Linked DNA regions of Homo sapiens. The protein of the gene in region 2 purifies or fractionates together with the protein of the main gene of each other region. This does not show direct contact. Each region holds a gene or a part of one and is shown on either strand. Other genes may lie near its edges. The genes, in order: EVL and SEMA6A.

The links.
Region 1: the proteins of SEMA6A (region 2) and EVL purify together in Homo sapiens (affinity purification with western blotting, with the first as the bait; one study listed by BioGRID). This does not show direct contact.

The regions. Positions count from the first base shown.
Region 1 is NC_000014.9:100,131,214-100,135,032, reverse strand, and holds part of EVL (ena/VASP-like protein), read right to left. Parts: exon of another isoform or gene 2,315-3,819; coding exon 2,254-2,314; intron 1,987-2,253; coding exon of another isoform or gene 1,874-1,986; intron 833-1,873; coding exon of another isoform or gene 745-832; exon of another isoform or gene 1-744. UniProt on the Homo sapiens protein: Ena/VASP proteins are actin-associated proteins involved in a range of processes dependent on cytoskeleton remodeling and cell polarity such as axon guidance and lamellipodial and filopodial dynamics in migrating cells.
Region 2 is NC_000005.10:116,564,521-116,568,339, forward strand, and holds part of SEMA6A (semaphorin-6A isoform 2 precursor), read right to left. Parts: intron 1-3,819. UniProt on the Homo sapiens protein: Cell surface receptor for PLXNA2 that plays an important role in cell-cell signaling. Required for normal granule cell migration in the developing cerebellum.

The DNA.
Region 1 (3,819 bases), on a different chromosome or scaffold from region 2:
GCGATACAGGGTGACATCAGAGTCACTAAAAAATTATCATCTTTTCTTGTATGTTATTTTTTTAAAACCCTCCCTGCTTAAAAGGGAAGTTATGCTTTGACTCTAGGCTGGGAAAGAGGTGGCCGCAGCACTCCCAGGCCCTGGGCACAGAGACTTGCACCCCACCTCTGGCAGTCGCACAGTCTGTGAGGCGGCCATGCCTGGGTGCAGGTTTTCAGGTGGTGGAACTGGTCCTCGGAGCAGTAACTCCATTGGCCCAGGGCCAGCTCTGCCATGGCAGAGGGCCTGCCCAAGTCACCGGACTCCACATTTGGGGCTCTTTTCGTCTTTCAAATAAGCCTTCTTTCTTCTCTGTTAATGATAAACTTAGTGCATGTTCACTGCAGAGAATTGGGGAAATACCAGGAAGCATGAACAAGAAAACGAGTGCCGGCCATCAGCCTCTCTCCCTCCCACTGCACTTGTGTGGTGTGTGGATCTTCTGAAGGCCCTGCTCTCTTTAGACGCTAGTCCTGGGTATGAGAAGGGACCATGGCAAACAAGAACCAGCTGTAGCCAGGGGCCTGTGAAAAACAAGACAGAAAAGATGGGGGTCTGAGGAGGAGAGTGCTATCCTTGGGGTTGAAGGTTTCAAGAATGTTCCTCTTCCAGAAGCCCCTGGGCTTTGAAATCCATTCTTCTTAGAGCTCCAGGAGCGAGAGTTTTAGTTTTCAGGGGCTGGGACTGCAACATACTGGCACCTGACTAAGAAAGGCCAGCGATGTCTTCAGATCCCCAGGGCTGTGGCTGGAGCGAGGCCACAGTATTTTGATGTCTGTGATTATCCCGTGGCCTGCAATTTCAGAAATTCATGGCAAGTCAGTTGGCTAAACTCCACAGCATGTGCAAGGTATGGGAATGGTGGACGTGTGAGAAGCCCAGGCCTCGCCCTCCAAGGGCCTAAGATCTGGCAGGAGACAACGAGTCTCCACAAGCAGTCGTGCCTGTGCAGAGGGCCTCGGGAGAAGACCGGGGCTGGGATCAAGTAGTGAGGAGCTTTGTGAGGCCTGGGGGTCGGGAGGCTGTTTTTTTGTTGTTGTTGTTTGTTTTGTTTTTGAGACGGAGTCTCGTTCTTGTTGCCCAGGCTGGAGTGCAATGGTGCGATCTCTGCTCACTACAACCTCCGCCTCCCAGGTTCAAGCAATTCTCCTGCCTCAGCCTCCCGAGTAGCTGGGATTACAGGCATGCGCCACCATGCCCCGCTAATTTTGTATTTTTAGTAGAGATGACGTTTCACTATGTTGGCCAGGCTGGTCTCAAACTCCTGACCTCAGGTGATCCGTCTGCCTCGGCCTCCCAAAGTGCTGGGACTACAAGTGTGAAGTGTTGAGCCGGCCGGGAGGCTGTTTTTTAAGGTGTAAGGGTGATGCAGGGAAGTGCAGGCTGAATGGGAGTTGGCTGGTGGGGCAAAGGGACCCATATGTGCCCAGGACGGGGCTGAGAGGCGTGGATCAGCTGGGAGGGCTATAGCCTCAGGGTAACACCAGCATGACCCTGACTGATGGGAGGACAGGGCAGGAAGCCTGCTCTGGTCCCTGGCAGTTTTATTTCCTCTCTGATTCTGCACTGAGGTGGAACCTTCAAGGCATTTGTAGTTAAGGCTAAACTTAGCCCTGTCAGTAGGAGTCTTTTTATAGGAAAAGCTTAACATGGAGGAAAAGAGAATTAGCCGCCCTAACTGGAAGCAGATGTTGGGAGCTCTGGCAGCCAGGCTGGCTCTGGGCTGCCTGGTAAGGACAAGAGCCAGGGGTCCAGGGCTCCTTTGCCACAGCTCACCTGAAGCTCCTGCTGGAAGAGGAGTCTTTAGAAACAGAAATAATTTGAAAATAAAAACCTCTCTGGGCTTCTGGCAGACGTGCCCCTCTGCAGTGTACTCCTGGAGTCCCAGTCCCGCCGAGACCCTGGCTGGTCTGTGCTCCCCGGGGCTCCTGGGAAGGCGAGGTAGCCCTGCGGTGCAGCGGCCAGCGCCTCAGGCTGCAGCTCCAAGGGTGGAGCAGTGTCTGGTAGGGGGTGCTCAGTGAGGGCAGGCCTGCTGCTGGGGCCAGGGTGGCGCAGGGACAAGCACCGCAGAGACCCTCCGCCCCTCCTGTGAATCACCTGATGAAGCGCCCATCCCACGCATGTCCCAAAGGCCTCGCCTGAGACCAGAGAGCCTCCCTGGCGATGCGCTCATCTCAGTGGGGAGCCTGAGGGTGGGGCGGGCTGCTTGCTCACCATTTGGCTTTCATCTTCCTTCTTCTCGGCTGGCTTGTCTGACTGGGAGGCTGCTTTTCTCCTAGGCACAGAGAAGGGGAAGATACAGATCAGCTCCTCACGTTCTCTCACTGTCCCAGAACTCTTCTGCCTCCACCCTGCCAGACTCACCCCGGTCCTCAGATAAACCTGTGTGGGAAAACGATGGCGTGAAGGAGGCGGCTTGTCTAGGCCCCGTCTGGTGAGGAGCCAGGCCCAGGCAAATGTCCAGGCCCTCCGTGTGGTCATGGCCTGGGACACAAAACTGGTCTAGGCAGAGAGGGCGAGATGCCTCTATGTCTGTTTAGCTCTACTGGCAGCAGCTGTAGCATCTGAGGCGTGGAGGGGAGGCGGGCACGCTCTGTCCCCAGGACACTGAAGGCCTGGCCACACGGGACAGAGAGGCATCTCTCTGGGCTGCAGTCTGTCCCACAGGTCGGGACACTGGACACTTTCTTGTGTCACTCTAAGGCCCTTGTGTCTTGGAACTCAGTTAACCCAGCCACGCCCTCCCCAATCTAGAATGCCACTCAGAGCCTGGAAATGCTCAGAAGAGGAGCCCTGGAATAGGTCCACGTGACGCCCTTGAGTCGGTTCGTGCACCTCCCCAGTATGAATCCCCGTTTCATGTACTCTAAAACCTCACCCATATTTTTTGGCCTCAGTGGTATCTGCTGACCTCCCAGGTCTACAGAGGCAGGCAGACCCTCAGTGTTTCCCAGAGATACGCTTCTGTGGCTTTTCAACTTGAGATGAGCTGCCCATCAAGCATGGAGCTGGTCTGAGGTGTGATAATGGGCCGTGGCCAGGCTGTCACCTGTCTGTGATGGGCCTACCTGGCAGCCTCCTCAGCTACAGCAGGGGCCCCCTTCTTTAGCTCCCATCTCAGGACAGGTCTGCCCACCTCGTCCCTCAGCCCAGAAACCAGGGAATCATCCCTGACACCAGCTTCTTATAACTGTCAGCCTGGTCAGTTCTCTAAATCTGGGTACCTGCCTGTCTTTTTTGTCTTCACCTTCAACACCTTCCTGCATGCCCCTATCATCTCTTCCTGGACTGTCAGAGTCTCCTAACTGGCCTAGCCACGATCACTTACACCTCACCAGCTACCCCCCAGCAGCCAGTGTCCCATCTCCTAGAAACAGAACGCTGACCAAGCCACCTGCTCACGGGGAGTGTAGGCGGGATGAGTGTCTGTGAAAGTGCTGCTGAACAGGAGCTTTCTGTCCACGTTCATTTCCCTCCTGCCCTCCACTGTTGGGAGACTCAACTGCATGCCCTCAGAGGCGGGAGACAACCTACATGAAAAGAAACCTGGCAAGGGCACTTTCATCGTCGGCTCCACCCAGTAGCCATCACTGAGGTGGATTTCAGAGAGCACCTGATTGATCCCTGCTGAGCTATGCAAAGCATGTTTGTTCTTGGGAGGGCCTTGACTCTCCCACCGGCATCTGGCATCTCACTGGCTCCTGGCAATACTGGCCTTTTCCTGTTCTCAGACAGAAAGGTGCTTCCCCTCAGCTTGGTCTAGGACTTAGGGAAAGCATT
Region 2 (3,819 bases):
AAGGCCAAATTTGCCAACCAGAAGCAAGCTGTGTTCTGCATCACACGTGAAGCACATAAATCGCCAGAATGTGTGTATGTGTATCACCCTCTTACAGCAATTTACTCCCCAAATCCTTTCTTGACCAAGTCACACAATATATACACCACTGGAGAACATTCTCTAATCAACTCTAAAGTCACAAACCTAAAAAAAAATAGCAAAATATTGAAATTATTAAATAATTGAAAAATGTTCATATACTATTCACGAGTTGACAAAGCAGTAGACCTACAGTCCAAAATGTATGAGCCTTTTGTTGCAAAATACAGTAAAATGGTCTCTAGCTCCTTAGCAATGAGTGTCAAGTGTAAAAAAGGAAAGGTTAAACCTGAAGTAAAGCTCTACATGTTTCCATTGCCAAAATAACACACGGCACACAGCAATCATGATGTCATTTTATTTATTTAGTAATCTGCAAAGCCAAAGCCAAATTATGGAGCAGAAATTTTAAGCAAAGTCATGAATGGCCTCATTTACCTCCACATTTGTGAATAGTCTTAATGAAGAGTTTGCGTCCCTTTGCTTTCTTGTTGAAATATGAAAGTGACATCAGCCTCTGTACTGTATTTTTATTTATTTATTTTTTTTGCCAGCAAGACTGAGCAAGAGGCAAATCCTGGATTAAATACCAGCTGGATGTGCACATAACAAGGTCCAGGGAGACACTCTCAGAAGTTGCCTCTTTTAATCCAACACTGAATTATACGAGAAGCGGTTTTCAGTCTTTCAGAGCACAACTGTCAAAATAACTGCAAGGCTTGCAAGCCCTAGTATATCTCAAACCTTTCCCAAGACACCCCAACACTATGTGAGGCACTGAAACTATGGCAACCGAATAAGAAAGCAGCCTCCATGATTAACAGATGAAGATCCCAGCGACAGTGTCTAGCTAGGGCCATCATTCATGATACAAGAAGAATTAGCACAGAATCCGTCTCGAAAACCATTAACAAGTATTCTTATAAAAATCAACTCCACTGCCATTCTGCCAATATACTTGAGTTTAGAATGCTACAAACAATTTGGTTTCTATTTATCGCTCACTATGCAGGAATGAGAATGTTCTTAGAAACTCAGATGCTCATGTTTTTAAAATAGTGAAAGGCTTAATAGAATGGTTTTCCACCTGGGTATTTTAGGCCTAAGAACAAATACATTGAAAAACCAAAATATGTGAATGAAATCAAGTGGCTCTCTGGGTAGAAAGGAGGAGGGACAGTTGTTGAATTGTTTTGAGTGTTTTTTTGTGGAATGCAATTTTTTGTAAAGCATTCCATTTTCAGGAAAGGAACGTTTCCATTCACCAGCTCAATCAGTATTCTCTCAGTTTCCTCATTCAAGGACAGTAGGAGTCTGGGGGAGGGGCGGGGAAGTGCTGAAGTCGCTGCAATATTAATGAAAAGACTGAATACTTTTCTTTAAAAAACGAATCAGGAATAGGAACAGGGAAAGAAGAATGGATCTATCACAGCTTGTCTGTAAAACCCTCATAGAACATTAAAACATAATTAATACAATCTTTATTTCTTCGTAGTCTCTAACAATGTTTATTTTCCAATGGCATGTTTTCATTGTATTTAATGCCAGATCCTGTTCTGTTCTATAAATGCTTCTAATCAAATCATGGCCAAAGGCTGGTCTTTGAAGCGTAGAGGGGCAGAAGGGCTAAGAAAGGCGTAAACAGCACCAACTTTAGAGCTTCTTCTGCTAAATTTTTTTAATTGGCATGGATTCTTTGAATTTAATGTTCTACAGATGACAATTATAGGTTAGTTGGAAATTCCTAGAAAGCACCTAGGAATATTAAAAGAAAGCTTCAAGTCTAAAGGCTGCATGAGGAAGTATCTATTACTAACAATGCTTTCTAAGCAAAAGTCACCATACTGGCTGCTAAGAAGGATCTGAAACTTCGGTCCTTGCAGCATGTTAATTACTGATTTATCTCACACTCTTTCCATTCTGTTTCCACTTACAGAGTTTGAGAACATTTTATTTCCTAGTTGAAAATAACTGTAACTCTAAGCCATGGAGGCATTCCTGGAAAACATAATGGTAGCAGGGAATTGTGGTGATAACATCAATTTATTTCCCCTTCTGCTGTGCCTTTTAGAAGTCAGATTTTTCTCACTGATAAGAACTTGTATGACTATCATTTGAATCAAATTTCAGGTTTTGTAGTAGTGTGTCTGTCAGCAGAATAACTGCTATCTCTACTGGGGTCAGCCAATTATTTCCTACCTTTGGTGTGGAAGGCAGTAGTTTGCTTTTGCTCCCAAATTGATTTCAAGCTTGGCCAGGGAAGAGTGACCTGGCAGATGCATGCCCAACCTGAAGACCCTCTTGCAGAAGTCCTAGCCACAACCTCCTCAAGGGTTCCAATCAGCAGCCGAGTTTCTCTCCTAAGACAGGTGTGGTCCTTGGGAATTCAACTCATCCCTAAAATTGTCATTATGAGTTGCTTTCAGATTCTAAATGTAGGTGCAGAGTGTACATTTTATTATTAAAATGTTAATAAGTGATAGCTATCATTTTTCAAAAACTATCCCTTGGGCTCCTATTTGATATAAGGCTCTGCTTGTTATTATTATTATTTTTTATATATAGTGGTTTTTTCCTTCCATGTTTTGGGTGTGATATTTCAAATTCCAAAGTTTCCCTGTTTCCTGTTTCCCTGCAAGTGATGTATTCACATGCTTCTCAACTTAAAACCCATGACATTATGGCCTGTTTATGGTATGAATGTTTGTTTCTAGTCCAAAGGTTGTTTTCTTTTGCATCATCTCTTTATATTACAGATTCGTAGCCATTTCCTTTTCTACTATTTCCCCTGCCCCCCAGAATAAAAGTACTATCTGCTTTTTCAAAATCCATTCCTAGGACATTTTTCGTAACTACTGTTACTCAAGTAAAAATAATACCTTATGTTGAATGACTGCTTGTTGTGTGCCCGGCATTGTGACATGCATTTTACAGATGTTAGCACATTTATTCTTCTCAAAACCATAACATTATCATCATACTAGCACTTTGCAAATGAAAACTGAAGGAGAAAGGAAACTGGCATAAAGTCACACTGTTGGTAAATGGCAAAACAAATCCACGTGCATTGTCTGTCAAAAAAGCATGACCTCCGCAATGCCTCTAGAGTTGTCCACTACCTTCCCTCCAACGGTCCCTTCACATTTATTAACCTCACGCCACAAGATCTAACGAATTCGGCCTTGTTATGACAAAGATGGAAACTTCTACTAGTCCTGGTTCACCCTGACATATTAATCGTTACACTGATTTGAACTATTTCAGAATTTAACTGAGCAAAAACAATTATCTTACTTTTAAACTAATTCCTGGCAGAATGGTACTCCTATGACCTTGCCTGATTTAATGATAATGTTGAAAGCAATGTTTCCTTGACATGGTAGGTGTTCTAATTAATAAAGTTGCTATCCATGCTCTAGGTGAACTGTACAATTTCAATGAATTTGAACATATTATTTAGTTGCATAATGTGATTTACATTAAAACTACATGAACAGTGTATATTCTACCAAAAATAATTTAGAAGATGAAGTAGGATCTCTGTTATATCCAGGGTCCAGAGTGGGAAAGAGGGGGTTAACATCAAACTTCCCAAATTTCCACAATGCGTGTAATATTTCACTAAATACATTCACATTCATGATTTCGTATTATTTTCCCAGTAATCCTATAAGTTAGGAAGAATAGGTTTACTATTTATAATTTTCAATTAAAATAATGCAGCCACAGAGAAGTTAA